5 separate regions of the Homo sapiens genome follow, and regions 1, 3, 4 and 5 are each linked to region 2. Evidence: fine-mapped expression QTL. A gene starts in region 2. Each other region holds a variant in brackets. All regions are shown on one strand. Distances are between the middles of the regions.

Evidence for each region. PIP is the estimated chance that this variant, and not a neighbour inherited with it, causes the effect. A credible set is the group of variants that fine-mapping cannot tell apart.
Region 1: its variant is the best candidate, but not a certain one, in a credible set for the expression of MAST4 in NK cells (Schmiedel 2018, PIP 0.57).
Region 3: its variant is the best candidate, but not a certain one, in a credible set for the expression of MAST4 in blood mononuclear cells (TOPMed, PIP 0.86).
Region 4: its variant is the best candidate, but not a certain one, in a credible set for the expression of MAST4 in blood mononuclear cells (TOPMed, PIP 0.54).
Region 5: its variant is the best candidate, but not a certain one, in a credible set for the expression of MAST4 in Th1 cells (Schmiedel 2018, PIP 0.55).

The regions. Positions count from the first base shown.
Region 1 is chr5:66,994,166-67,000,327 of GRCh38, forward strand. The region is part of intron 4 of MAST4 (microtubule associated serine/threonine kinase family member 4); the gene reads left to right. Among named protein-coding and RNA genes, the nearest start is that of MAST4-AS1, 6.9 kb to the right of the region's middle. The variant C/CT (reference allele first, on the strand shown) is at 3,268.
Region 2 is chr5:66,593,306-66,599,467 of GRCh38, forward strand. It overlaps MAST4 (microtubule associated serine/threonine kinase family member 4), which reads left to right and starts at 3,088. Exons shown (of 29, transcript NM_001164664.2): 1 at 3,088-3,713. The coding sequence starts at 3,351. RefSeq lists silencers at 2,724-2,923, 3,534-3,673, 3,684-3,833.
Region 3 is chr5:67,026,995-67,033,156 of GRCh38, forward strand. The region is part of intron 4 of MAST4 (microtubule associated serine/threonine kinase family member 4); the gene reads left to right. Among named protein-coding and RNA genes, the nearest start is that of MAST4-AS1, 26 kb to the left of the region's middle. The variant T/G (reference allele first, on the strand shown) is at 3,179.
Region 4 is chr5:67,048,696-67,054,857 of GRCh38, forward strand. It overlaps MAST4 (microtubule associated serine/threonine kinase family member 4), which reads left to right. Exons shown (of 29, transcript NM_001164664.2): 5 at 5,709-5,797. Among named protein-coding and RNA genes, the nearest start is that of MAST4-AS1, 48 kb to the left of the region's middle. The variant T/G (reference allele first, on the strand shown) is at 3,467.
Region 5 is chr5:67,035,245-67,041,406 of GRCh38, forward strand. The region is part of intron 4 of MAST4 (microtubule associated serine/threonine kinase family member 4); the gene reads left to right. Among named protein-coding and RNA genes, the nearest start is that of MAST4-AS1, 34 kb to the left of the region's middle. The variant A/AT (reference allele first, on the strand shown) is at 2,626.

The sequences.
Region 1 (6,162 bases), 400 kb after region 2:
AGAGATCGTGGAAGCCATGACCAGGGTCATGGCAAGTGAGGAGAAGACATGAAAATCTATTGTTCCTTTATCATTTTATACAGAGTGAAAACTTTTACCCAATTTTCTTTTATTTTCCAATTTTCCAATCTGGTGTATTTTTCAGCCACTTTTAAATGGGATTTGCTTTTCTTTTCAGTTTTCTATTGCTGCTGTTTACATGTCCTCTGGCCTTGTTTTTCTTTCTCCTTCGTATATTAGCATTCTTAATAATTCTGTACGTACTTCATTTCCTAAAAGCTACTTATAAAGACAATTCTTGTTTCACATTCATTCATTTGTCACTCACCTGTCACTATATTGAGTAACTTGACTGGCTGTTGTTCTCATTCCTATTAACTGGAGTAACTTCTCTTTGAAAGTTTTTTGATCACCAGGAACTTTAATATGGTTGTCTTCTATAACATGTATGACAGTACATTGAATACAAGAATATTTCTATGGTTGGCAGCAGAAACGTCGTCTTTACCTTTCAGTACTCTCAGTCTAACTATATACAGACAGTTTAAACTGAATTACCTAGTCTCATGGGAAATAACAAGTTAGGGTGTTTTGGAGAAAGGAGGAAGTAATCCCAAATTATAGCTATTTAATTCTTTGAAATGAAGAGCATTATTTTTATTATATTCATGTCTAGATAATGTTAAAAGTAAGTTTGCTTCTCAAGAGTTCATGTTTTTTTTGAGCAGTGAAAGAAAGCTTTTTCATTGTACAACATGACAGAGGGAAGCAGGTCTGGAATTCAAAACTGTTCACATAAATGCACAGCCTCACCAATCTGCAAATAATGACACATATATTCAAACAAAAGCAAAGCACTGCATGGATTTAAAGCCCAGTCGGCTTTGAAAATACCCGTTTGCCCAGTTGCCATAGACAAGGTAGTAAGGATTTATATCTAGAAATCAGAGATATTTTTCATTTTTATATTATAGAATTCCTGAGAGTAGGAAAGACTTCTTTTTAAAAGCAATTTTAGTATTTATTTCCAAGACTCATAGAGCTTTTATTAATGCATATGCATTATTTCGTGTGTCAAAAAATATCAATCAAATTTTATTAAAATACCAGAGTAAAAGTGTGTATTGTTTTCTTAAGTTTGTAAACTCTTCAAAGTATTCTAAAATTCTCAGGAACTTGAACTTTCAGGTCATGATAATAGGACTGTCAAATGTGTGGCTCCTGGAAATCAGAAATTTTTTTGTCTGTTTGTTTTTGAGACAGAGTCTCACTCTGTCTCCCAGGTTGGAGTGCAGTGGTGTGATCTTTGCTCACTGCAAAATCCACCTCCGGTTTCAAGTGATTCTCCTGCCTCAGCCTTCCAAGTAGCTGGGACTATCGGCACCCGCCACCATACCCAGCTAATTTTTGTATTTTTAGTAGAGACGGGGTTTCACCATGTTGGCCAGGATGGTCTCAATCTCTTGACCTTTTGATCCACCTGCCTCGGCCTCCCAAAGTGCTGGGATTACAGGCGTGAGCCACCATGCCCAGACGAAAATTTTTTAAATTTAAAACAACCTAGGCATAGCACAGTGGCTCATATGTGTAATCCCAACACTTTGGGAGGCTGAGACAGGAGGATCACATGAGCCCTGGAGTTGGAGGTTGCAGTGAGCCATGATTTCACCACTATACTCCAGCCTGAGAGACAGCAAGATGCTCTCTCAAAACACACTCACATACACACACACACACACACACACACAAACTTGTAAAAAAACATGAGAAGTATAAAAGAGGATAAATCATAATTCTGTACTGACAGATGTTCATTAAAAATACTTTGTTGGCCAGGCATGGTGGCTCACGCCTATAATCCCAACACTTTGGGAGGCTGCGGTGGGTGGATTGCCTAAGGTCAGGAGTTTGAGACCAGCCTGGCCAACATAGTGAAATCCTGTCTCTACTAAAAATACACAAAATTAGCTGCGCATGGTGGCAGGCACGTGTAATCCCGGCTACTCGGGAGGCTGAGGCAGGAGAGTTGCTTGAACCCCGGAGGCAGAGGTTGCAGTGAGTCGAGATCGTGCCATTGCACTCCAGCCTGGGCAACAAGAGTGAAACTCCATCTCAAAAAAATATATATATATATACTTTGTTGATTTCCATCGTTTTTATTCGTATATAACCATATATATAATATCTTAATGTAGATCATAGAACTTCATTTTTTTCTGATTTTAAAATATTACTTCAGGAGCATTTCCCATTTATTACATATTTTTTAAAAATATCATTGTTTTAGTTTCTTCTGGTTACTATAACAAATTATAACAAACTAGCTTAAAACTAGCTTATATTTATTTATTCTCTTAGAATTTTAAAGGTCAGAAGTCCGAAATCAATTTCTGTGCGCTGAAATCAAGGTGTCGGCTGGGCTGAGCTCCCTCTAGAAGCGCTGAGGTGGAATCTGTTTCCCTGCCTTCTCCAGCTCCTAGAGCTGCATTCCTTGCAGTTTTTTGGCTCTTGTCCCCTTCCTCCATCTTCAGGCCCAGCAGCCTAGCATCTCATTTCAGTGCCACATTGCTGCCTTCTTCAAGTATCCCTCTGCCTCACTTTCATAGAGACACTTGTGATTATATTTAAGGCCCACCTGGATAACCTAGGACCAACTCCTCATCTCAAGATTCTTAATTACATCTGCAAAACTCTTCTTGCTATATAAGGTAACATATTCACAGGTTCCAGAGATTAGAACCTGGATATCTTTGGAATCTATTATTCAGCCTACTGTAATTCTAATTCTTTACTGGTTTTCTAAAATTCTATTTTGTGGCTGTTTTAGGATGTATTAACAATTGCCCTCATCTTGTACCTTTGGCTTTTTCCCAACATTATGCTATTATAAGCAATTCTGAGATTAATTTCCATATCCACAAATCTGTGTGCATACTTGATTGTATCTTTTGTATAAATATTGCATATTAAATTATAATTCAAATATATCTATGTATATATTATATGTACATGTATATATGGACACATACATTTATATATGTGTTTGGACATGTACACATATGTGCCTACTACATGTATATATATGTATGTGACCATATATGGGTCTATGTATGTATATGTTTTCCTTCTCCAAATTGCCTTCCAGAAAGTTAGTAGAGAGTACTTATCTTCCCCATGTCCTTACCAACATTGAGTATTATCTTTTTTTAATCTTTACCAGTGAAACAGGTAAATTGATACCTAATTAATGTGTTTTTTTTCTTTTCT[C/CT]TTTTTTTTTTTTTTTTGAGATAGAGTTTCACTCTATTGCCCAGGCTGGAGTGCAGTGGCATGATCTCGGCTCACTGCAACCTCCATCTCTGGGGTTCAAGCAATTCTCCTGTCTCAGCCTCCCAACTAGCTGGGATTACAGGCACCTGCCACCATGCCCAGCTAATTTTTTGTATTTTTAGTAGAGACGGGGTTTCGCCACGTTGGCCAGGCTGGTTTTGAACTCCTGACCTCAGGTGCACCACCTGCCTCCCAAAGTGCTGGGATTATAGGTGTGAGCCACCATGCCCAGCCTGATTGATGTTTTAATTACATTTTATGATAACTAGTAAGAGTTAACACTTGTCATGCCTGACATTATATTTATACCCCTATGAATTAACGTTTCTTTTAAACTTTTTGTTGGTATAGAAGTGATATAACTTAATAGAACTCCTTGACTAAATAACTTCATGTCCTCCCTGACATATCTTCCGATGTGTGGAATAATTGGAATTGATCTTAGCAATGGAAGGAAATTCCGATTGTTACAGAAGCATGTGATTTCTACCTCTGTATATGCTCCCTGTTTGGTACTTTGATGAAAACTCATACTTCTCATTTTAATGGCATAATTTTCCATAACTTTAGATGTATGACCTGGAAAAAATATTCAAGAAAAGAAGAACGGATAAATTAACCTTAATCTTAAATTACAGAAAGGTCTTAGTGTCAGCTACGAAAGGGCTAAATATAACCATGCTGACCCACTTAAACCAAATTGACACTTCTTATAATTGCACTATAATTCATGCTCAAGAGCTGTATAAGAAATGATGCACCTTAGACCCAAGTTTCTGGATCAAGAAGCACCTTGTCCTTGAAGTTAATTCCAGATTGAGCATCTAATGCAATGATTAGTAGCCATGGTTCACTGTTACCATCAAAAAGAATTTAGCACTTCATACACAACTAGTTGTATATTTATACTTAAACGCAATTCGTTACCTATCATGGTCTCTGTTGAGATTTTGAAATTTGAAACAGTAGACCTGCCTAATAGGTACAGCTTATATAGATAATGGAATGGACTCATGGACCCATGAAACTGAAATTGAAATAGACAGGAAAAGGTTTTTAAAACACATATAGGGTCAGTCTTTAAAATATTAGGCAGGTAGCCCTAACTTTGTTATCACACATCTTTCTAACCTGTAGCAAATCCATCCTCAATCTCTTCTTTCCCCTGCCCACCCCTTCACCCCCAATCCTTTCTCTATTGTTCCCTTTCTCCCTTTGCTTAATATTCATCCCAATGGTGGTAGTGATGGTTTAAAGATGAGGGGATAAAGCCCCTGCCCTCAAGGAGCTCTTACTCTAATAGGGACTGATAATGTGCACAAAATGATTTGGATTTTGATACAGTGGAAGAACCCTTTCATGCAGGAGCTCTCAGGAGCACAGCCCAGTAGAGGGATATCTAATTCATTGGGGATGGGGGGCTCCCATGAAGGCTGCCTAAAGTGACAACAAGGTTGGTCTTAAAACAAGATAGGAGTTAGGTTTTCTGTTTGCCGGGTGATGCATTGATCTCCAAGTGTTGCTGTCTACTTCATAATTGGATTACTGGCTTGGGTGGAGGCCAGTGCTCCACGTGGTTTATTGATGGATCTTCCAGACAGCTGTTTTAGAATGGAGAGATACACTCATCTCTGGATCTTGCCCAGTAGTCTCCTTCTTTTGCATGACCCCTTCATCCCTGTAAGGATGCCATGTGTTTTCTGGCAGTGTGTCCAGCTGTTCTCCCACGGGGTGGAACTCTGTTGGGACTAAGCTATGGGGCTTCTCCCAGGAACTTCCCCTGCTTGAAAGTCAGAAGGTAGAGTGCTGGAGTGTGCTTGCAAGACATGATTCTGCACCTTCTCCAGTCCTATGGGCTGTGTGCCATATATGTATTCTACTCTAATTATCAATCATACATATCAAGGAGTCACTCACTGCCTTGGGAGATAAGTGCTTCATTTCCCATATCTATGCACTGTCTTCTCTTATATTTTGTTAGCTTATAGGTTATCTGCTAATCTTTTCCGTGTCTCTGATTCTCCTGGGATCCAGAGAATGCCTGAGAAAGACCTTGCATTCTCTTCCCATTCTGGCCAGTCTTTAGCATGTCCTTTACTTGCTTCAGACTGTATCCTTTACACTACCTTCGGAGATTGTGTAGTTCTTTGCTCAACCCATCAGGAAATAGAATTCTTATTTTGTTTCCTTTGTTTTGGGTTTTTTTTTTCCTTTTCCTTTTTTGCTTCCAGGATAATGTTTCTTTCATTTTACTCATTCACTTTAAAAATCTGAACCTCTCTTACCTTGTGGCATTATTTTAAAATATTTTTTGGTATTTTCCAGGATGATACAACCTTGCCTATTATCTGTCTTAGTTTTCAGCATTCAGGCCTATCCCTACAAGTTAATTGTTGTCTATCTTTTTATCTTTCTCCATATTTTAGCATTGTGAGTGCAAATTTGTTTAATAATATTAGAAACGCTTTCTTCAACCTGTTCCTCATTGATGTAACTTTCTTCCCATTTCTGTCCCAGTATTAAACTTTATTTCTTGGGATGTACAAAATGATTACAAGGATTGCTCATTCAGGACAGCCAGTTTGCTGTTCACAGTTCTAGCCTCAAACTCTCAAGACCACATTTAGAAGGTGACCAAAGTGGACTTGAAGGTGTGGACAGCCCTAGGGAACTAGTCACTTCTAGGTGCCCTGAAAATGGGGATGGGAAGATGTCAAAGTTAGTTTAGGGCAAAATCCTTAGAATAGGCCAGGATCAGGTAGAGTGCTTAGGAAATCTCAACTTAGTGTCTTATTGGGCATGGCCTCATGGCCCGAGTGTCCTGCACAGGGAGCT
Region 2 (6,162 bases):
TGAGGAAAATATTTATTATTTAATTAACAAGATAGGAAAGTTGAACTTCAGGATTTGGATAAATCAAAACTGATTTTGGTCCAGTGGTTTGGCCACACCCCAGGAAATTTATCCATGGGTCTAACTAGGATACTTTTGGGGAACTATCCTGACTCTCTAGTCATCTTCTATTTATAGTTATCCTTTGAGTTGGCCATGTTCTGGTCTGGATACTCTTAGCCTGAACTACAGTTTATTTCCCTCACAGGTGGGTGTGGAGATGAACAAGTACACTTTTAAACTGCAAGTTTTGAAGTAGAGTTTGAAATCTATTTAGTGGACTACAACTAGCATCTTTATTTTTAATAAAATATAAATTTCAGGGTGCATTGCTTAAAGGATGGGTAAGTATTGTCTCATGACATTTTATTTGTATTTGTACATATGCATATGTGTCATGAGTTCCAGTGTGAAATATATTTCTTATTTGAGGTTCAGGTTTAAAAAGTTCAAGAAATACTGATCTAGTACTTGACTTTGATCTGTAGAGGTTAAGAGCACAAATGCTGGGACCAAATGTTCAAATCTGAATCCTGGGTCCATCATTTGCTAGCTGTGTGACTTTAGCTGAATTACTTAACTTCTCTGTCATAGTTTTCACATATTTCACAAATATGATATGAGAATAGTAATAGTAGCTACCTCATTGGGCTGGTATGAGAATTGAGTATATTAACATTTTAAAGTGCTTAAAATCCTGCCTGGCACATAGTAAGTACCTTAAAAATGTTTGTGGGAAAAACAAATATGTTCCTCAAGTATTTTCTTTTACAGATTGAATCAATACAGCAAAGTTTCTTCCCTATGGATATTTATAATATGGTATATATATATATTTGAAAAAGCTGTCTGTTTTGAGTGGCATTGTATTAATACTAGAATGCCTAGGAAAGACAGCCTTGGAATCAGGTTGCTGGGTTCCAAACCACAGCTCCACTGCTTACTTGCTGTGTGACCTTTGCAGATCCTCAGTTTCTTAATCAATAAAGTGGGACTAATAGAATCTGTTTCACAAGGTTGTTGCCAGGATTAAATGAGACCATCCAGAGAAGATGCAGAGGACTCAGGCGATAATAACTATTGTCATTCTTGCTGTCGGTTATTCAGACCATGACCTTGCTTCTTATTTCCCTATGTACTGAAAAGCAACTCCTCCTCTTCTTTTATGTGCATGGCTGAAATTGTCATTTCAGTTCAGCTCTGGTGAATCAACCACGTAGGGGCTCAGATAAAGACCAGAACTCCTAAATAGGAAAGTAATTGTGAGGCCCGGGTTAAATTCGGACTGCCCCACTGTGCTCTCTCTTTAGCCTTGCTCTCACAACTTAGCTGCCACTAGACTTGACCTTTTGCCTCAGCAGGTCTTCATATCCCTGTGAATAATTCAGAAGCGTCACAATGAAAGCCTGACAACCGGAGTCCATTTTGCAGTATGGCTGTCTGAAGCAAGATAGACAAAACGTATTTCCTTCCCCTTCATCTTGAGGGGAGGAAACTGATCAGGACAAAGGTTGCTGTCCAATATGATGAAGCCCTCTGTGTGATGTATCACTTGTAAATACCATGATAGCATGAAAGGCTCATTAGCTGAAGGGGCTTTCAATTAGGGTCCTCCAGTTTTTAAGGACCTTTGGCAAGGCTGCTCTGACAAAGAGAAATCTAAGATGCTCAAGGACCTGCTACTGTTTTTCTGTAACTCTTTCCTCTTCTCCCTCACACATTTTTCCTGTATCACTTATCACAGCTTCTAAAATGGATAAGGGAGCTATATTATGCAGTATCAATCTCTCGCTTGACCATAAGCTGCTCAAGGGCAGGGGACCTGACTTATTAATCTTTGTATCCCCTGCACCTGGCACACATCTCCATCAACGTACATGGAACTGAGGCGGTTGAATTTACATCCCAGGTCACTGTGCCAGAGCTCAGAATGGGACTAGAGCTGAAGGCAAGAGAGGAATCATTTATTTCCCACTGCTGAGCTGAGTGCTGGCTTCCAAGGAAATTCCAGTCACCGGACAGGCAGCATCCTCCAGCCCCAGGGAAGGACTTAAGGGTACTCTATTGGTACCTTTAGTGAAAGTTCTTTCTCCTAGTTCTTAGAGGTAAGGAAAATGAAGCAACCTGTCCTGTATCCTGTTGGTTTACAACCCAGGGCTAGGAGAATGTACATTGGAAAGTGAATCCTTTTCATCCTCTGCTTAGCTGATCATACCGAGACAGACAATTTGAGTAGGACTACAGAGCTTGGTCCTAATTAAATACAAGGACATACTTTTTTATCTTCCTCCCTATCAAAAGGTTCAAGTCTCAGACTTAACTTTTTAGTTTACAAACAGAAATAAAGACAGGAAATAGTCTTTTAAAAACGCTCCGTGTATCCAAGCCAGGCACTTTGCTGATGCATTATATATATTTGCTCTAAGCCTGCCAAGACCAGTAGTAATGTAGCCATTTACAGTTGAGGAAACTGAGGCCCAAAGAGCTTAAACGGAAAAGCAGAGATTAGAGGTCACTCCCCTTTGGGTCCGCTCACTATACCACGAAGTTTCTGTCCTTTTCCTCCAACACGCTGGTGAGTCCGTGTGCGTGGGTGACTGTGTGTGTGTGGTTCCTTTTTTCCCTATAGAGCCCTCCTTCTTGTCCGTTTTCTTGATTCCACTTTTTGGAGACAAAGTCCAGTTCTTCTCCAAGGTCTCACCATCCGCTCGCCGTCTCCCTCTGACGTCCCAAGGACGGTCAGCCACTCCCCCGCTAAGTTCGGAGTCTCAGCCCTTGGCTCCGATTCTGGGCTCCGCCCCCACCCTCCGGGGACCCCCGCCTGGTCCCTGTCCCCTGCGCCCAGGCGCTCCAGCGGGACCACGGCCCGCGCCCGGGCCCCGCCTCCCCTACCTGAGGCCCTCATGGCCGGAGGCGTCGCAGCCTCCGCCCACCAGCGCGCCTGCCCTGCCATTGGCTCTGCGGGCTGCCCGTCTCCTTGCTCCGTCCCGGAGGCAGGTTTTGCAAGGAGAAGCCGCAGTACCCGCGGCTCGGGTGCAGCGCGGGAGCACAGTGGAGCGCAGATCGCGGACCCGAGCGGGCATGTCCCCGCGCGCGGGAGCCTCCGTTTGCGGCCGGGCCCGGGCGGCTGTGAACTTAGCAGCGGGCTCCTGCGGCCCCGTCACTGCCATGTAGTCGCTGGCGGGGCTCCCTGCAGCCCGGGAGCGGCAGTGCCAGTGAGCCTGAGCCCAGGAGCCCGCGTCTTCCCCGGGAGGCGCTGAGTGCGCGCCGCGCCCCCGCCGCTCGGGAGGCACTTTGGGCCAGACAGGGAAATGGGGGAGAAAGTTTCGGAGGCGCCAGAGCCGGTGCCCCGCGGCTGCAGTGGCCACGGCAGCCGGACTCCAGCCTCTGCGCTGGTCGCCGCGTCCTCTCCGGGTGCTTCCTCGGCCGAGTCCTCCTCGGGCTCAGAAACTCTGTCGGAGGAAGGGGAGCCCGGCGGCTTCTCCAGAGAGCATCAGCCGCCGCCGCCGCCGCCGTTGGGAGGCACCCTGGGCGCCCGGGCGCCCGCCGCGTGGGCTCCGGCAAGCGTGCTGCTGGAGCGCGGAGTCCTTGCGCTGCCGCCGCCGCTTCCCGGAGGAGCTGTGCCGCCCGCGCCCCGGGGCAGCAGCGCGTCCCAGGAGGAGCAGGACGAGGAGGTGGGCCTTTCCCCAGCTTGCCCACTCTGGGTTCCGGCAGCCGGGCGACCGTAGTTTCCCATCCTGCGCACAGGCAGTGGGCAGGAGAGCGCTGTGGCCTGGAGATAGGGAGGGACCCCAAGCGCTCTGCCCCGAGCACGGGACAACGATAGTTAGGAGCCCCCCTGTGGGTTATTGACTTCCCTGTGGCTGTTACCCCCGTGTGTGTGTCTCAGTGTGCTGCCTGATGGTGTGTTTTTAAAATGTCAGAGAAGCAAACTCCTTCGTGTTTGTATCTGACTTGGTTGATCTGTGAAAGGATGCGATCTGGACATCTGGCGTGTCCCCACAACTCACCTCTGATTCTCCAAAGTGGGCGTTGTTTCCCACCGAAGCGCTTGGGCCGAGGGGCAGGGAGTTGAGGGGGAGAAATGGTGCCTTGGGGGTAAGAGGCAGGAGTAGGGTGGGGGGCAGCGGTAGCCGCGGAGTTGCCTGCGGAGGTTTCAGTGGCGCCAGCCCCCTGGGATCGCCCGCGGGTGGTTTTGGCGCGTCCCCGCAGCGTCGGTCCTCTGGGAGAAGAGGACTCCCCGCGCTCCCTCGGTGGCGCTGGCGTGCGCGCCTGCAGCTCCCGTTCAGACTTGTTTCCAGCTTGTCCAGATGAACGCTTGTCACCAAACCGAGTACAGATCGTCTTACCTTTTGCGGGGCGGAGCGGGGTGGGGGATCTGTATCTGCCCAGTTTCCTGGAAGGATGTTCCTCCAGAACTTGTGGGTCGCTTCCTGACACACTGAGCATAGGACTCTGGTGTCCTTCTGGCTGCTCTGTCCGGCTTATTTTCTGCTTTTGGAGGACAGTTAAAGAAGTGTACAATTCTTCACGTCTCAGAGCCAGACTCAGTTTAAAAAAAAAAAAGATTGTTTGCTTTGGACGTTTCTTGTGGGGAAGTCATCTTGATCAGGCAGGGCCACAAATAAAACATCACCTTAACATAGACTTATTGTGAAATTAATTCCTGAGTGCCAGTGTTGTATTTTCCTCATCTTGGATGGGGTTAGCTTTAGTAAATAATTGCCTTTGTCCCTTAGAGTAAGCAATCAGAGGCCCCCAGCCTGGAAGCAAAAACTGGATGTGGCACAAGGTTGAGAGGAGGCGAGTCCTAGCTTGGCAGAGATGGAACAAGCCTTAGCTGCTTAGCTGGTTCTTGGCCAAGCCACTTGCAGTAACCATGACCCATTCCCTAATTCCCCTAAGCCCCCATTGCAAGGATCCTGGATAAGGGTCTGGAGGCCTGCTTTCTAGAACTGCCTCTGCTACTGAGTGGTGAGACCTTGGGTATATCATTTCACTCCTCTGAGGTTCAGTTCCATAATCTGTAAAAGGAGGAGCTTCAAGGTAAATTTCATTTTCACTCTCATACTCCTGTTTCGAATCAGGAATTTCAGATGAATCCATAGCTCCAAATCGATCCTAGCGGCGGGATGTCAGGAGTTTGCTGAGTTCCTCACCCACCGCAGAGCTACATCCTAGCGGAGATGATCAAACCCTGTACTGCCCCAGCCTTCCTCGCTGATTACATCTCCCTTTCAAGGTGCGGGGCATGTGCCACGTGTTTGCCCCTTAACTTCTGCCTCCACTTCTACAGATGAGCACACTGGCATTGGGAAGCTGGGGGTGTACCCTAACTTAATGATTCACCAATAGTTCCTAATTTAGTATTGCCGCTGGTGGAGAGTAGTTAGTTGCTTTATGTTTTCTATTTAGCTAGGAGGGTGCTCCATGGTAAGTGACATGGTCTTGCAGGTGGTGGGGAGGGATGTTGTCGGGGAACTTCTGATCCCCATTCTGTCGCTGATTTATTGCCTGGCCTCAGGGTGACAGTGCTTTGCTTTGTTGGAAGTGGATATAATGATAACTTATTTCACAGGCAATGCAGTGAGAACTGGTTGATTGAAACACATTTTGGAAAGTGGAATGATTAAATAACATGGGTCACTATTTGTGAAATCTCAGAATTGCGTGTAAACTGATACAGTATTGCAATTTATTATGTAACTTAACCTGCGGCATGGGATGCTGGAAATTTCCCAGGAGCAAAATCTTGACTTGCTCTGAGAATTTTAAAGTGAAACGAAAACCAAACCATGTAGTTTTTTCCCCTCTTATGGAGTAGAGGAGTGATAATCTTTGTGAAAGGGGTTGAAGTCCAGTGTGCATTTTCTGGTTCTTACACTGGTGATGGTATGGGGCAGGGGGGTGTTCACCTTCACTGTTTGTGGGGTTGTGGGCCTCTTTAAGGAGCAAATGAAACCTCTTTTGCCCCTCTCCTCAAAAAGCACACCAGAGGATTCGGGAATGCTGGGTGATAAACACTCATTTTAGTGGAAAGACGTGGGTTTGATTTCTAGCTCTGCCACCTTGACCAGTTGTGGGATTGTGGACCATTCAACTTCTGCAAATCTCAGCTTTCCT
Region 3 (6,162 bases), 430 kb after region 2:
GTAGGATATAATATATCCTATTTTTAATGATTTTACATAAGATTATTATCTTCAAGAACACATGTTTATATAATTATTGTAAAATATCAGAGTTATTGCTACAAAATATGTAAGGATATTTATCTACATTTTTAATGATACAATTCAGAGAATTAGTGTAGAAGACAGCAGTTTTATACTTTAATGTTGTACTAAGAAAGGTGATTTGAGTGCTGTTTGTATTTATTGGCAGTACTGAATTCACTGAAATATATAATTATTACAAAAAGAAAATAAACTGTATCTGTCTTGACCAAGAGTTCATACAGATGTTTTTTATTCTCATCAGATTCCCAACTATGCTGTGGAAGCAAAGTTGAATCTAGCCAAGTACCATATCTCTGTATGCACTCACAGATGAACGTAAATACACGTTGTGCACATAAGGATCTGGAGGGCTAATGATACCTCCTGGTACAACTGCAAAAAGAAACATAGTTTAGTGATGGAGTCTTAGACATGGTTCCTGAATGCACAGTTGATTCTAACCATAGAACTGCATCAAAGATGGCAGAGCTTCCTTCTAGTTTTCTTCTGATAATTCCAAATATAAACTTTACCTGTCAGAGTAAAAAGTAGAAGCTGTGCATTTTATAAGAATAAGCCTTTTCACCATAAGGGTTTTCAGTCTAAAAACATGTTTGTGGATTGTTAATGAATAGAGTTGGATGAAGAAGGAATTTTTTGACTTCTAGTCTGTATTAAGCAATTCAGATATGAAATATCCTTACTTCCTGGAAGCTACTCTTTAGGATAGGATCTGTTGTTATAACCACCTCTAAGTTTAAGATATGCAGAGGAGATTTCACTTGGAGATGAAGCTTGGAATTTGGAGCTGAGTGTAGTTGACTCTCCATCCTCTGCATTTATTTGTTCATTAATTCAGTAATATCAGTTGAGCACCTTCCATGTGTTAGGGATTGTGCTGGAGAGGCAGTGGTGAAGGAGACAGATGAGTCTCTACCTTCTTGAACGCTTGCAGCTTTATGGGAAATGCTGTGGAGTTGGGTGTAGAGACAGGAAAACACAAAGAAGTAACAGAATTTACAGTATCATGTGTGAGTATATGTCTGTCTTACTCCTTCTTAGCCATGCATGGTGGGGATTATAGTGAACTTTGAGGGCATCCAGGAGACACACAACAAAAAAGTGGGCTGTGAAAGAAGTAAACAACCTTGATGGGTGAGAGATCATTGAAATGTGGAAGACTGTAATCTAGGCAAAACAACAACAACAACAATACAAAACAAATAGCTATCGTACAGAGACTCGAGTGAGAGTTGAGGAGCAATTCCATTAGAGTGGCAAACAGGAAATGTACTCTGAGGGTAGGAGGTGCCACTGAAGGGTTTTGTACAGGACAATAAGATCACATTTGCCTGTAGGAAAGATTCCTAGCAATGAGGGATTGAACTGGAGTTGTGCAAAAAGGATTCCAGGATCTGAGTTAGAGCAAGCATCACGGGCTTCTGGGGCAGATGGTGATGATGCCACAAGCAGGCTGGTGACCGTGAGAATGAAGGGAGACGCTCAGGAAGTGGATTCTGAAAGACTGGATGACTAACTGAGTGATTAGAGTGAAGAAGAACTAAAGTGGAGGTTGTGCTCATAGTTCTGCTTTAGCCTGTTAGACAATGGTACCAATTACTGAAATTGGGAACACAGAAGCAAGACACGTTGGATGAAGATGATATCTTCAGTTTGGGATTCATTGGACTGGAGCTTCTATAGACACACCCAAGTGGAGATGCTGGATATGTGGATCTGGATGGAAGGCAAGAGAGTTCCAGATTGGGGATTAAGAGTCATCCACCGCCGGGCATGGTGACTTATGCCTGTAATCCCAGCACATTAGGAGGCCCAAGTGGGTGAATCGCTTAAGCCAAGGAGTTCAAGACCAGCCTGGGCAACATGGCAAAACCCCATCTCTACAAAAATAAAAGATAAATAAATTCGCTAGGCATGGTGTCATGTGCCTGTAGTGCCAGCTACCTGAGATGCTGAAGTGAGAAGATCACTTGAGCCTGGGAGGTTGAGACTACAGGCAGCCATGATCACGTAACTACACCCAGCCTGGGCGACAGCACGAGACACTCTCTCAAAAAAAAAAAAGTCATATACATAAAGATTAATGAAGAGTGCCAAAGGTAATTAGTGTTGAATATTTATTTTCCAGCAGCTTCAAGTATTTATGGTCTGCTTAGACCCAGGTCAGAGTCTAAGGTTTCTGGCCCTCTGCATTCCCAAGAGAAATGGAGGTGGGGATGGGGAGACAATTTGTACATGATTTTAAAAGTGTTTTCTAGGAAAGACAAGCCATAGAGCCATCCTTATACTTATGTTTCCCATAGGCATATATGTTTTGTTTTACTTTGGAGTAATATTCGGGATGTAAACATCTTTGCTTGTAGGAGGATCAGATACCTACTGAAATGTCATCAAACTGCTAGCATGTTTCTTTTAGTTAAGTATATTGAGGGACCTTACCATTCTGTGTATTTCATCTCTAAGAAAAAGGAAATTAGGCTGGAGAGGTTTGAAAGAAATTGAGCAGGAAATTGGGGTTGCAAAATTCTATGGCAAGGTGATGGTGTGTTTTGATTGTTGGGTTTTGTTTGTTTATTTTTTGATAAGAACAAAAAGTGTTTGCTACTTAGAAAACCTTTATTGGCAGCATGATTTCTGTGTCCATGAAGAATGAAAGTGAGGTGGATGGAATAGTAGGAGTTTTAGAAGGAAAGTACATTTCCTCATGTGAAAAAGGTAGGAGAAAGGAAAATATAAATTCATTGCTGTTGACTTTATAATTTGATATTAACAACATTATTGAAATTGCTGTGGACTTGAAGTTTGTCCTGTTTACGAGTTTGCACAAAGTTAATCCTAATTATTCTGAAACTAAGACTTATATATTATTTTTATACATTTGAATTTCTCTAAATTATATACTTAAATTTTGTTTAATGAAATTTTTTCAATTAAATAAAAATGTATGTTTAAGGTTGAAATTTACTAGTATTTCACATGATTCCTTGTTAAGTGTTATATATATTTAGGAGCATCTAGGAAATTGTAAAACCAAATTTCAAATTAAATGTGTATTTTTATTATCTAAATATTTTGTATACATATGGGTCAT[T/G]CACATCCTTATAGGTTTTTATTTAACAAATCATTTCTCAGGGCAATACAACATAAAGGCTCTATAGTTAATTTAGTAATAGCATGGTGTGATACCTGTATTCCGTATCTCTTTTGTTTTATAGTGTTACAAGCAATATTTGATGGTTTAGGGTTGTTTTCTTTTTAAACTTTGGCTTGAACCAGGTTAGCACTGAATGAGAGCTCTGAGATGACCATCTGATGTTTATTAGATAGCTGTGGTAAAATGACATAATCATCATTTTGGTTTTGAAGAGGTAACCATAGCACTGGTGGCAAAAATAGATCATCTGAGTGACATTTTAACTCAGAAAATAAATACCTTTTCATTTCTGTACATCACCATTCCAGAGCAGGCCTGGGGCAAATTGGTCAGAGTCCTAAGGGGTGATATTTAAAATAAGATCTGTTTTGTATTAGTAATGAGGTTGTGGTTTTAAGCCCTTCCATTCTGTTGTGTAGTTTCAAGGGAGTTTAGTTTAAAACATTAAAACCATACAAACATTGTATATTTGGAACACCTAACCTCTTCTAAGTGTTCTGTACCTCAGCACTTTTTTTATCTTGGGTGTTTGTGTCACTCTCTTACAACGTCTACTTTTATAAAGCCTTGGGTATCTCAAACGCTATGTTTTTATTTAGTATTTTAGTGCAATAGAACATTGTGCTAAAGAGGCCAAGGTCATGGGTGTTGATTCTATGCCAATTAACTGTTATGGTGAAATTTTTTTCCTGTAGCTTTGGCTGGTATTTCAGAAGTTGCTAGAATTTGACTACTTTTGTTTAAAGTGTGGATAATGCTGCCTAACTCATTAACTGTCCTGTAAAAAGTAAAATTGATGTCTATTGGGGATAACACTTCCACATAGGATATTTTTTTCCTATGTGAAAAAAGCATTTACTTTCATCTGTGGATGATCTCTGACTAGACTAAAATGTATGCGTTTATTAAATAGATTAATATCAGTTCCTGGTGGGTGGAGATTATCAGTCTTTAAATTGCTACTCTTTGCTGCTTTCCTCTGCATAGATACAGAGAATCTGTCAGCTCCCTGGCTAGTCCAGCAGAAAGCCCTGGGCATTTCCCAGAGTTGATGGCAGAGGAGGGTCGTCTCTTGTCGCCTTTTTAGCCTGATTTATTGCCCTTGAATTTTTTAATAAGGACATATTTTAAGTTCTGTCTAGGGACTGAGGGCTTGGATCATTCATGCAGTGAACTTTGAATAAGTTGGAAAGATTGGCTGGGCCCTGTTATCATAATGGATGGTGACTATTTGACATTTACAGTGGTATGCTCCATTTGCACTAAAATAAATGAATTTGTATTTAGACATGATTTGCAAAATTTTTCCCTATCACACTTAAAGTAGAGGTTATTTGCATTCAAAGTTAAACACTGAAAAACTGCGTACAGACTTAGTGAAGATTTGTAAAATACATGTTAATTGGCATAACACCATTAAACCTGATTGTGCTGATCTGTTAGCTGGAGAAAGAGCAGGAATCATCTTGTTCCCATATCCCTACAATCTAAATTGTTAGAGTTTCTAAAGATGGGGGACTTCTCTGAAGTGAATATTCCTGTCAGGCCTGTTGACCTTACTGCCTAGTGACCTATTCATAGGTCAGGATGGCAGTTCTCCCTGCTGGGTCAGTTTTTATTCCACCTTCTTTCGTGAGAGAACTAATTTGTACAGCTCTTACAGGTGGAGAACTAGATCACTGGTGTCCTTTACTGCCTCTGATATATGTGGAAATGAATCAGTGGAAAATTCAGTTACTCATCGTGACCTACTTCTGTCACTTGCGTTGAAGGGGTGCTTATTTGTCAAAAGCAATCTGCCCCCCTTCCAAAAACTCTTGCTCCATGGCTGCTTTAACTCATTTAATCTATAGATTCTTTCAGAATGTTTGCAGTTGCCTAAATCTTTCTGTGAATTATCCTGCTGTACCTGTAATCCATTTTAGATTAAGCCTCTGGAGGCCAATGAAAAAATCTGACTTTGTTACCTCTCAGCACAGCCTGACCCACAATCTCTGCTTTCTAATGAAGATTCCAGGATCTTTAGGAGAAACTGTAAAATGGAAACTTCCACTAATTTGAGAAGGGGGAGATTTAAGAAAGGTTGGGTTTTATTATGACTAAACTTCCCCACCCACGTTTTTTGCAAAATTTATCTTTTCTCATTTTTATTGGCTTATTCTTTCAAAATATTCATTTATTCAGCAAGGTTTAATTAAGCATGCCTCTGTGCCAGGTATTGCATTAGGGTCACAGAAAGAACAAGATACATGCTTGTCTGCAGTGCCTAGTAGGAGAGCTATAAGGTATCATGTTAGAATAAATAAGACCGGTTTTAAACGCCATTTTTATTTTGGGGGAGGGCAGAATTATTTTACATCAAGAACAAAATAAGGGTTACTTCTTACCTGACTTGATGATTTTTCAGCAGCATAGTCTGGTCTGTCTGGATCAGTGGTTTACCTATTTCATATGGTCACATGTGTCAGTATGTACAATGATTATTTACCATAGACTTTTAGGTAAATGATGAGAGGATTATTGAGAACAACAGAATTCAAAACCCTTGAAAAAGAAAATGATGTGTATCTATATTTTAAGCAGAAATACACAAACACACTTATAGTAACTACAAATAACATCTAGTAGCTCAGACCTATTGCCATTTATTTCATGTTCAATATTGTACAGACAACAAACTATGAAAAGTGATGTACCATATTTATATGTATACAGGTGAATTTCAATCCAACACTAAGATAATTACTTTATGTTGTAGAATCATATATAAATACTTTTTGCCCTGTTCTAACCATGCTTACGAAGACTTTCAGATTAAGAATGAATGGTCATACTTAAAATAAATAGAAACTAGTATTTGATGAGGAGAATGGCATTCCTTTGGAAACCCATCTCATTCTTGGCAGTTAATTAGTTCTTAC
Region 4 (6,162 bases), 460 kb after region 2:
TATTATGGATGGGAATCATTTGCATTACTCCCAGTTTTCTACTTAACTTCAGCTTCTACAGAGTTTTTAAATCACCTAGTCAATAGAAAAACAATGTGTATACCTTTACAGAATCAAATAATTCCCAGGGATCGTCTGCTATACAAAGCCCAACAAGCCACTAAAAGGTAACTGTTAATTTCTTTTGTACAATTTCAAGTCTCTGTTTTTCCTGTTATGTGATACTACTAGTGAAAAGTGGAAGCACACACATATAGTGTGGTTATACATATAGCATATATATATATATATGTATATATATATATACACACACATATATATATATACGTATATATATATATATATACGTGTATATATATATATACGTATATATATATATATATACACTACCATACCAAGAATGAATGGGCAAGCTGCAAGCCCCAGTTCTTTCAGTAGTTGCCTTTTGGGGACTGGAATATGTTATTGGCTTGGACTTCAGAGAGTACATTTTGTTCTCTTTCTAGTTTCTATATCTTTTTTAAAGATTGGAAACAAATAGCACAAATGATACAGTTGCTTGTTCCAGTGTGGTAGGATTTGTTGGATTATTTTTCTATTAAAATTTTTGAGACCAAAAAAAGTAAGTTTATGAATATTTATCTCATCTGTTTCAATCCCTTCATTGTGAAGAAATGGAGACAGAAAGCTGCTTAGTTCATAACATTTATGCAGCATTACCACATTAGCTAGACAATTTCTGCCTCCTGGTCATGCCCTATTTCTTCCACTTCAGCCTTCTTCTTTAAGAAATATTCAAATGTTCATCTTCTCTAAAGGTGTGAGGAAATAGTTAGCAGATGTTCATGGACAGTAAAGCTTTGGTCTATGATGGGTCTCCTGTGCAAATTTATCAAATTTTCATTAGGACGATGTAATAATTCTAGCTTTCCAGAATTACCGGGGCCCCTCTTACTCAATTCACTATATTATTACTGCCCCTCAATGGTGGTTAGTCTTATTTTTTACTGAATGTTGACCTTTCAAGTCAGCTGTCAATGTAAAAATCACTGCCTGTCGGGGTTTCCTCTCTTCATTTTTCTTGCCATGGTCAGAAATGATCAGAATTTATGTCTCAAAGTGAATGTAATTTAAAATTAAGTTGGATTTCAGCTACTCAGAGTAATTGGAAAAGGCCACAGCCTGGTGGGCTTCACAGCTTTCAGAGACCTGGTAGGGGATGGCTAACAGGTTCTTCTGCCAGGAGACAAGTGGCAGACCCAGGTGTGAAACTTTTACAGGTCCCACCAAGCCTTTCTTATGGAGCACAGAGCATAAGGACAACTTCTGCAGAAATGGAATGGGGTACTTGGAACCAAAAATACATACACCTCCTTTCCCACCTGCCTCCAGCTTAGTAGCCCATAGTCCTCTTTGTCCCTCACACTGAGCCAGGCCTGACTTAGATGATGAAATGCATGGCCTGTCTCTTCACCTTCTTAGCAAATGGGAGGTGCTGTTGGCAGTAATTAAGAAATTGAGAAGCTCCTTGTGAAACTGTTTTCGCGATGGTAATAGTGAACTCAGGGAGCAGGTGTGGTGCCTCTTTCAGTCCTCATTTCACCTGCCTGAGCAAAAACCATGCAGACAAAACACTTCCTGGTGGTGACCTCATGTCACTCCAAAGCATCTCCACCCAAGCACCTGTTCAGCTGTGACATTCTTACACGCAGTGTTCTGTCCATGCCTGCTCACCTCCTGCCCCTCAGGGGCAGCCAGTCCTCCCTCAAGGTCCTATCATCAGAACATCTTTTCCCCTTCCCATTCTTCTCGGATTCTGTAGTCAGCAAGGTGCATTTCTTGTGCTCTGTGTCTAAGTTATCTTTCTGTGTCTCATAGTTGCCCCTAGGAGGAGCTTCCCAAGGAGGTACCAGATAAATGAAGTAAAAATAAATGCTTGTGATCATCAGCTCCTGTCCTAATCCATTGTTTATGCCATTGTCTCAAGTTGTTATATGACTGTCTTCTCAGCCTAAATTCTGAATTTGCAAGTAGTGACTCTGTGCCATTGTGTTAATAGAACAATAGTTGTCACTTTCCAAATTCAGAGAACAAACTGTGCAACTCACCCACAGGAAAGTAAGTTTTTCCATGTGCTGCTTCAACTGGAGAACTGATAGAGGGTACTTTGTGGGAAGTGGTTAGTCTCATGTTGGGCTTTCACGTCGGAGCATGGGCATGGTGAATGGCTTCTAGCTGTTGAAGAATGAAGTCAAAAGAATGTATTTGGGGATGGAATAGCTGCAATTTGAGTTCATAACTTTTCTTTAGTTTCATTTTTGCGGTCATGTCCCTGTATCCCTGAGGATGAAAACTGGAGATAACTCTTTACAAGCTCAAATGCTTAGATAAGGGTGAGTTATAAAAAAGATATTTCTGCTACAGGAGAAGTAGTATTCATGTTTAATCTGGTCGGACATCACCTGTTTTTCCCTTGGGTGACTTTGCTTGAAAAAAAAAAAACAAGGCAGAATTGACTTAGTTGTGCTGGTGAAAAGGAAGGAGCCTTTAATTTGCCTGAGTGGAGATGTTTCCACTGTTTTATCATTTAATGGGTTAAATGAGTAGGTGTGGCCATGAACACCTGGAGAGACTGCCTGACGTGCAGGTGCCATAAACTTCTGCTTTCATGGGCAGGAAAGTGTGTGATACCTGGAGGACAGAGGTCAGCTCAGCATTTTGCACCAATGTTATTATTAATGTGGGCATTGCCAGGTGCTGTGGCAACCTGGGTGACAGATGCAGTTCTAACCCACTTGAAGTTTTCTTACTGTTGGAGTTAAGTGCAGATTTTAATTCATTTATTGGGAATCAGGTACTTAGAGTAATAAGATTAGGTGACTGTCAGATATCCCAGAAGCAGGTAATACTGAGATTGGATGACTCTTCCTTCCTGTACCCTGGAAAGGTTTTCTACAGAATATCTCAGTAGGGTCCTAGGATTTTAAAAGTATTTAGATATATATATCAAGATATAGGTATTTGGGAATGAAATGCTGTGTAAAGTGTCCCTCTACCCTTGAAAATTTTAGCAACAAATTCATTCATAAGGCGAAGACCCCATTTCATAAGTATACAGATTTATTTCATGTACATATGGAAATATATCAGCCTATATTATATAAACACTGGCTTTGCTACTTTGGGATCATTTGATGTTTAAAAGTTTTCTATTTCATTGTTGAGAGAGATCCCAGAAAGTTCCAAGTCTGTTGTAATTTTAATATCATCTCTAGCTTCATGTTGAAAGGAAAAAAGATTAGAGGAGACACTTTCAGTGATGAATTATGCTTTGATTATTCATGGCATTTGTCAATAAGATATACCTTCGATAATTTGTTTTGTGTAACATACTACCCATACCTTAAATATGGTAAACTGTTCAAATTCTGAGGTAATTTGTTTTTAACTTCTCTTCTTTTAACTT[T/G]CTCATGTATTCATAGATGAAATAGCCTGTTTTCTTTCACTCTACATTGCATTCATAATGAATCATCTATTTATAAAGATTAGAAATCTGTATAGAGGAGTAGATGCACCCAGGATGACTGTAATGTAAATCTGTTTGTATATTGACCAAACAAGTATATTTTATTTGGGGGTTTTATTTAGACATTTCTTTTTGATATTTTTTTTGAATCACATTTTTGAAATCACTTTTCTACCCCTTTTTGATAGATTTTAAATAACTAATGGAATTGTGAGGGTTTGTTGTTCATGTTTTCATTTTTTAAAAAATCTAAATTGTTCATTGTTTTGCCTATTGTGGTAGTGTATGTACCTTAGTATGTATGGTAGTGTACGTTTCTTAGAAATTTTTTAAGTTTTTCTTAAATAACATTTTCTAAATTTAGTTTTAAGTATATCAGCATATTTCACTGATATATCTAGTTAAGATATTCATTAGATTATTTGCATTGACAGACATTTCTTATGAATTTTATTTATGCATATAAACAATAAATATGTTGAAAAGATCTTTATGCATGATGTAGATCAAATGCTAAACACGAAAAAATGTAGCCATTTTTATAATAACCTGAACTTCAGTTAATTTGCTGAAAGAAGTTTGCTGACATTTCCAGGACATAAATCTGTCATTTATAATTTCTTCTATTAACATCAGCAAGTTAATATATTTAATATTTCTGTATTGGAATGAAAGAAGACATTAATTTGAATTAACACTGAATACATTATACAGTATCTTTTAAAACCAATCAGACTGTCTGATTTAATGATTGTGAATTTAATAGGTTGAATACATACATTTCTTGATAGATGAGTTGATAATATCCAACCCACCTTCATAATTAAATATCAAAAGTCTATTCTTATTAACAACTGCTTTAAGGCTGAGTAAACATGAGCTTAATTAAACTCACAGATAATACTAGGGGATGCTGATTGCTGCACTAAGGAAAATAAAGTGATGCAGCCTGACCTTAAGAAATTATAAATATGGGACTGTTGACAAATGATAATAAGCAGCAAACATCTAAGAGAAGATAACTCCCAAGTCTGTATTGCTGAAAGAAATTGGGTTTGGTTTTGAAATGTATTATTTGAATATTTAGAAATGTTATCTCACTGTACCTAAATTAGAAGTCCAGTGAAAATTCCTGTTTCAGGAATCTGGTATAACAGAGTTCTGTCCTGCACTAAGAAGGCATTGCAATAAACTCCTAATGGTGGTTGAGGGCAGCACAGTGTAGGAGGATAGAAGCACAGAGCCCTGAGCCTTGTTATAGGTGAATTAAATGAGGTAACTTGCTGGGTTTTACCACCCTCCTCTGACTACTGTATTGCTAATAGAGAATGAAGTGCCAGTCTATTTTGAAGAAAAGCAAATGAAAATAAGATAATATCCACTTCACCCATCCGCCAGTTTTGTATTTGTCTTATTCTTTAAGGCTTTTGAAAGTTACTTTGAAATCAAATTAGCCATTTTATAACTTCCTTCTAGCAGAAACAGGAACAAATTGTTGCCCTGTGCCCATGTGTAGTAATTTATTTCTATGCTCTGGGTACTCAGGATAAAACCAGTAGCTAGCATGCTTGTGAAAGAGGACCATCACTATTATTTTAATACACTGGGATCTGATTTTATGATTCCAGAACATTTACCTTAATAAAGAATTGAATGCCATATACAAGATGAAAAATGAATGAGTGGTGAGACACATTTATCTTAGGCATCAGCTATTCTATTGACAAAAGGCACAAATAAGAAATTTGTCTAAATAATTAGATTTTTAATTAGTGCGTCATTATAAGATTAATGTCACTGCACTTCATTGCATGTAATTTTGTATTAGAAATTTTGTGTCAACAAAGATGCTACCTGTGGTTTGCTGATTTGAATCCTTAATTTATCACTTGTGTGTATGGCATGTTACATATTTGCACTCAAGCGCTGGAAGAAGGCATTTGATTATTGCTCCACTGGTGGTGAGGAATATTGATGGTGTTGTGCTATATGAATACATTATATTTTCTAATATTCAAGAGGTAGCCACCCCTCAAATATTAGTGAATGCATAATTGTAATAATTTTAACAATAACATGAGCAGATAGGTTGCTCAACCTGGTCCATGTCTACCGGGAACATGGTTGAACATTATTGATGCTATATTCTTTTTAAACTTTGTTTTTTCTTTCTTTTTGATAGTTGCCGAACAAGCAACCGGAAAAGCTTAATAGGCAATGGGCAGTCACCAGCATTGCCTCGACCACACTCACCTCTCTCTGCTCATGCAGGTAATTGGTTACCATTTCTTGAGTTTTGTTTTATTTCTTTATTTGTTGGTTTTTTAAAATAATTAATGCATTTTGATATTTGGTATGTCTTCACATGTTATCTTTGTTTTCCTGCTGTTTTATCCCTAAGTTGTTCTTTGCGATATGTTAGCCCAGATCTTATCCTCTCTGTTTCAGTGTTTGGACTCTAAAATACAGAATTCCTTTTTATATGGGGTCTCTTTTTAATTATTTCTTTCTCCATTTCTAAATGCCTGGATGATACAAGACATGGTTTCCATGTTAGGAATATCCTTGGGAAATGTAAACATGATAACTCATATGAAAAGTACTAATGTTAAGAACTGTTCAGCATATTTCTCCCT
Region 5 (6,162 bases), 440 kb after region 2:
GGATTGTAATTTAAGGGGTGCAAACAATTCCTTTCATTAGCAAACTGTACAGTCAGCATTCTGTGCTTTGTTTTCACATTTTAAGTCAGGTTCTGAGGAGGGATAGACTTTGGCTAAAAAAAAAATGGCATACAGTATATTGATAATTTCCTGAGAAAGACAGTTTGCTGGTATTGTGGGTTGTCATTGAGTAAGTTAGGGCTGGCTGGTACTTCTCAAGCAAGCGGGATCTACTATGTCAAGTTTTCTACTGTAGCTGCTTGATGTAACCTTTATGATGTGGTCAAGTGACACAGAAACCAGGAATCACTTCCTACTCATCAGAGTTACTTATTGTCCAAGCCCACATGGAGTGATGTTGCCTGTTTTAAACTGGGATGTGGTCCTCCTTGATGCCGGTGGTGGGCAGGAACATCCGTAACTGGCACTTACACAGTAAGCCTGGCTTCCTTTCTTCACTGTGTGTTGCTCACCTCTATCCCCAAGCCACACAATGCCCACCATGGAGCCTGTCATCTTCCACCCCTTGGAGTCCGTCAGTGGAAAGGAGTAACAGGTTTTTGTTACTCACATGGTTAGCTACATGATCAGACACTACTGCATTTAAATCGTGTCTAGGGTACTTATAACACCTAATACAATGTAAATGCTATGGGGAGGCCAGACACCACTGCCTCCCTCATTCCCTACCCCAGTCTCAGGAAAGCAGACCCCTCTAGGCTTGAGAAGCTTACCCATTGCACTCCCTGTGGGAGTGTCTCAGGAAAGAGCCTGGGTTGGGACTTGCTTTTAGCATGCTTCCCAACATCCATTCCCTTTCCTGGGACCAAAACGCATTAAATACCCTTCAAGGCCCAGGAGGCCAGACTCTGAATACAAAGACTTGGTATAGAGGAAGGAAAAAATACTTTTCATTCTCTTCCTGCAGAAAGAATACCACAAATTAGTATCTCAATAAAGTATCCTGTTACAGGACCCATTGCCCACCCTCTCTAGCTTCTGCCTTTCTGCTTAGAAATTGTGGCTAGCAATATTTAAAAGGACATCAGCTTTTCTTTGTAAAACTCACATTTTCCAGGTTAAGAGGTTAAAATATTCATGATTAAAAATTTTTGAAAGCTAGAGTACAAGCATACCTACATTCATACTCCCATATTCCTGCCACTGAGAAGTAATCACTATTATGATTTATGTACATTTTCTTCCTATTCATCTTCTTTGCATTCTCTATGCAGTAGTCCCTCAGTGTCCCGAGGAGTTGGTTCCAGGACCTCCCTTGGAAACCAAAATCTGAGGATGTTCAAAATCTGATATAAGATGACATAGTATTTGTATATAACCTACCCATATCCTCCTATATACTTTAAATCATCTGTAGGGTTCCTATAACACCTAATGTGATGTAAATACTGTGTAAATAGATCTTATACCGTATTGTATAGGGAATAATGACAAGAAAAAAATTGTATGTGTTCAGTACAGATGCAATTTTTTTCACCAAGTATTTTCTGTCTGAATTTGTTTGAATCCATGAATGCATAACTCACGGATACAGAGACTGATGTTTAATATCAGTCTTTGGATGCTATATATTTTCTCTTATGTCTTTGTAAGCATTTTTGGAGTAATCCCATCTTGTGGTGATAGTATAGCTTGACTACATTTTATTCAGGGTTTTTAGGAGAAAGAGACTAATCATTTGTCCCTCACTGTCTTTTGTTCATTGTCATCCCAGAAAAAGGCCAAAAAGAAATGTATGTATAGGGGAGATTTGTTGTTAATTGGCTTGATTAGAAACAAAAACCTGCCACATAAAAGAGGTCGTTAATTCCAGGGTGGTTGTTGAGTGGTCTCCAGTAAAAAGGAAAGGTCGGGTGCAGTGGCTTAAGCTTGTAATCCCAGCACTTTGGGAGGCTGAGGTAGGAGAATCACTTGAGCCCAGGTGTTCAAGACCATCCAGGCAACATAGCAAGACCCCATCTCCATAAAATAAAAAGAAGAAACGAGAAAGTTAGTGGCTAAGCAGAGAGGTGATTGTTGAGGGTTCCAGCTTCCCAGTTCTTGGAGGGCAAGCCTGTTCTGTGTCAGGCTTAGTCCTTGTTCTCTTTTGAAATGCCCTCTTTTCCCTCTAGACTTTGTCATCATTTGATTTTAGGCTGGTGTGACTCAGACAGAACTGGATCTGTATTATGGAGTAGAGTATTAAAAATACATAGCTCATTTAGTACATAAAAAGCATTTGGAGGACAGAAGAAGCAAAAAATGAGCTATCCTAAGAAACATTGTCAACCCTATTTCTATTCCTGGATCTTATCAATTTTTAATAAAACATTTAAAAAATATCAGGGAAGCAGTTTTCTTCATTTCTATACAAATTGATTAACTCTTTCTCCTGGATGAGCTAGAGATTAATCTTTTTGAGGTAAAATCATCTCTTAGAAGAGAGAGTAGAAAACTAATCAATGTTCTTTCTCTAAGAGGAAGTTTTAACAGTTGAAAAATGACCCATCTCTGATTCAAGGCTTTGACAACAAGAGCCAGGAGAATTTGGGAGATAGAGTTATCATTTATAATTAATATATCATTAATTCTTTCTAACTATGATGCTAGACTCATTGCCCAGGG[A/AT]TTTTTTTTTCTTTTTTAAAACTAGAACACAAACATTAATTGTTCGTTCTTCTGGTGTTTGCCTGATACAATAATCCAAAAAAAAATTTCATAAGTGGAATTATGTTTTGTTTAACAATATATTATGGACACATTAAATAATCTTCCTAGAGACCTCTTGCATCCACCTTTTTCATATTTCTTAATGATAAAAAGAAATTTGCTTCTTTGTTAAATATCTTCTCTTTCCACAGCATTTATTTCAGAAAACACCTTAACCTATGATGGGAACACTTTGTCTACCTGGCTATTGAAATCTTTCTCTAACAGTTGCAATTCTAGTTTAGATGATTTTATATGCTGCTTTATCTTTATTTTTGCCTTTAGTTTCTCTTTTTTTTTTTTTTTAACACAGATTTTGTCAAATCTTAGGTAGACTGATTTTTATTATTTATTTTTGTCCTCCCAGTTATACAAAGTCACTTAACTGAACAATGGATCTATTTAATAATGCAAGGAAAAGTCACCCTCCCTAGACTTCCTGATTACAAACTCCTTGTAAGCACTTGTCTTGGGCCCTGGTACCAGTCCTCTGCATGGGGCAAGATACTCTAAAAACTGTTAGGGGATTTTTGGTGGAGTAACGTGGCTACTTACACATCAGAAAAACAAGTTACCTTAAAACAAGAAAACCAAATTGATGATGGTGTTGATGGAGTGGAGTGGAAGTTAACTTTGTCCTGTGAAACTGTTTATCACCAAGTGCTAGTCTTCAATTTGTAGAAAGACAGCATAACCTCATGCTTACCACTCATCTCCCTTCTTATACATTATTTTAAAATATTGACACATTTAGATACAAAAATAGGTGCTCATGTGATTTTTTTTAAAAAATAAAATGAAAATGATTTCTTATTATTTGAAATACATAGCATCAAATTTTTGGTGTACTGTCCAGGAGGCAAGCTAATAGTACAATGTGGTTTTGCTCCTTACCATATACTTTTGTGAGTTCAGAAAACATTGCAGCCTTTTGTAATAAATAGTCACTGAAGCTAGTATCTTAAGACCCAGGGCTCTGGAGAGAGATCTTTAATTTAAGGACATAGAAAACACTGTTTCTTTTATGTAAACGAGCTCCACAATTTTATGATTATACTTGAATGGAAATATGTTATGACCACAAAGCCAAAGGAATGACTCACTTGGTAGCTATCGACAGGTTTTATTTTCAAGATGGATTTAACTGCATTGTTGTTTTCAGATGTATTTTACCCTTTCAATAGGATTTAGGGTCTATTTAGAAAAATAATAAGTGGAAGTAAGCAATAGAAGAGTTCATGTTTATTTCTTTCATAGTACCGTTGATTTCTTTTCAGTAAGTTGAGGCATCCTAATTCTGGTCTTGATATGCAGTTTAATTTCATGTGGGTGAATTATTCACAATCCCTTTCAATATGGAAAGTTGACACAGTAGGGTGCCATCTGTCTATACCATTGAATTTCTGCTTAGCAGTACTTCCATGTGAAGGTCAGGGATTCCATAGCTTTCATAAGCAGGAATCCAGGGACACAGTGAACAGGAACTCTCTGAGTCACTGCAGGGAATGCAGAATGAGTTTAGGTTGGGTGTCTGGTGAATATGGTGAGGAGGAATTGATGTGTTATCCTGGAGCTTGGAGTACTTACTGATAAGGACCAAATCTCAGGCTAGGGACGAATGAGTTCCTCTCATTAAACAGAAGGCTGGACCTGTGAGAAACAAGTGTTCGTACCTATAAGAGGCAGGCAGGAGATCTGAAAGTGACTGAAACCACAGTTAAACTTTTCCTCATTAACTGAAGCACTGTGTCTCATCCCATCTCCTGCCATAGTTTTAATCTAATCCACACAATTTAGTGAGGCCTCTTTCTACACACAGATCCCTCTCCTGTCTGCTTTCTTAGAGTCTAGGGAGTTCTTGGAGGATAGTAATGGTGGAAGATACCAGACTAAAGGAATAACATCTTGAAAGAATAAGTGCAACAGAAGAATCTACAATTTGGGGTTACAAGGCTATAAGATTTGTAAATATAAGATTTTTTACTGTTGAGTTTGCTTTATTTTGAGATTTTATATATATATATATATATGTGTGTGTATATATATATAATATAAACTTATCTCACTAATGCAGTCAGTGTATCTTATTCTGATTTGCTGGCCAAATTTGCTTTCTGACGCATGTTACAATGTGGGCATTAATTCTTCTTTTCCCCAAAGCCAGTGCTATACAAGGATGCTTCATATCACAAATCTGATTTCTGGGTTCTCTTGAACACTGAGAGTGAGTTATCTAGAAATAAGAAACCAGAAAAGTCATATAAAAAGAGGCATGATCCAGAAATATGGATTTGATTTTGAAATCCACTAAAAAACAATAGAACAAAAAAAAATCTGCTGCATGCATAAACACAGTTCTCTCCAGAGAGCTGTGTCTGGCTAGATCTGTTGGTTTGGGCAGGCATAAGGAAGGAAGTGCCTGGTTGACCTGGGTAATTCATATGTTGGATCATCTACCTATGGATCTTTGAGAATACACTGTGGAGGAAGGAGCGTCTATATCGTGTCCACATCCCACCTGTCTACCATGAGCCTGAAAAATCTGTACACAAGTGTATCCTGGGATAAAACTCATGCCCCACTTGGTGATACTGGACTGTCTGTCCACCAGGGTCAGACTTACTGCCTCCGGAAAAACCTCACAATCTGATGTAAAGCTCCATAGCTTGAACTATCTCTTGTACCTGACCCTCATGCTACAGACTCAAAAGTCTGGTTTGGTTGGTATCCTAAGTACCAGCTCCATCTCTTAGCTGTGGATTCCTAGTTACCAAGCTCATGTGATTTCTATGTATGACCAGAATGGTGAGATATTAATTTATAAGTGTACATATAATCATTATTGGGCCTAGGCCCTTCAAAGGTCTTATTCTCTGCTTTGTAGACAGTCTAGCAAGATTGTTAAAAACACAGGTTCTGAAGGCAGACTGCCTGGGTTTAGATCCCGGTTCTCCCACTTACTAGTTCTGTGATCTTGGACAAGTTACTGAACTTCTCAGTTCTTCAATTTTCACATCTATAAAGATGTGGATAAAAATAAGTCCTACCTTATAGGATTGTCATGAAAATTAAACCATTGCTTGGAGTGTGTTAAACGCTTTGTCAGTGTTAGCAGTTATTATTATTATTTTTAATCACTTTTGGGCAGACCTCTCCATGAAGCTAATAAGAAGGTTGTCTGGGGACCATGGTAGCAGAGCAAGATTGGGCTGATGTGCACGGTTTTGACAGTTGTTCCAAAGCACTGAAGTCTGTTGAGTGCAGTCCCTTGCATGTTGCTCCACCTTGATGTTGACAATTAGAAGCCATTGGCCAGTGTTTGAGTGGATACTTTGAACTTGTGGTTCTGAAGCTTTTGTTTTTCTGTGTTTCTGAAACCCACCAATTATACTTCTTACTGGTACCTTCTTTCTATAACTAGGATAATGTTTACATTTACCATCAAGCCTTGCTGCC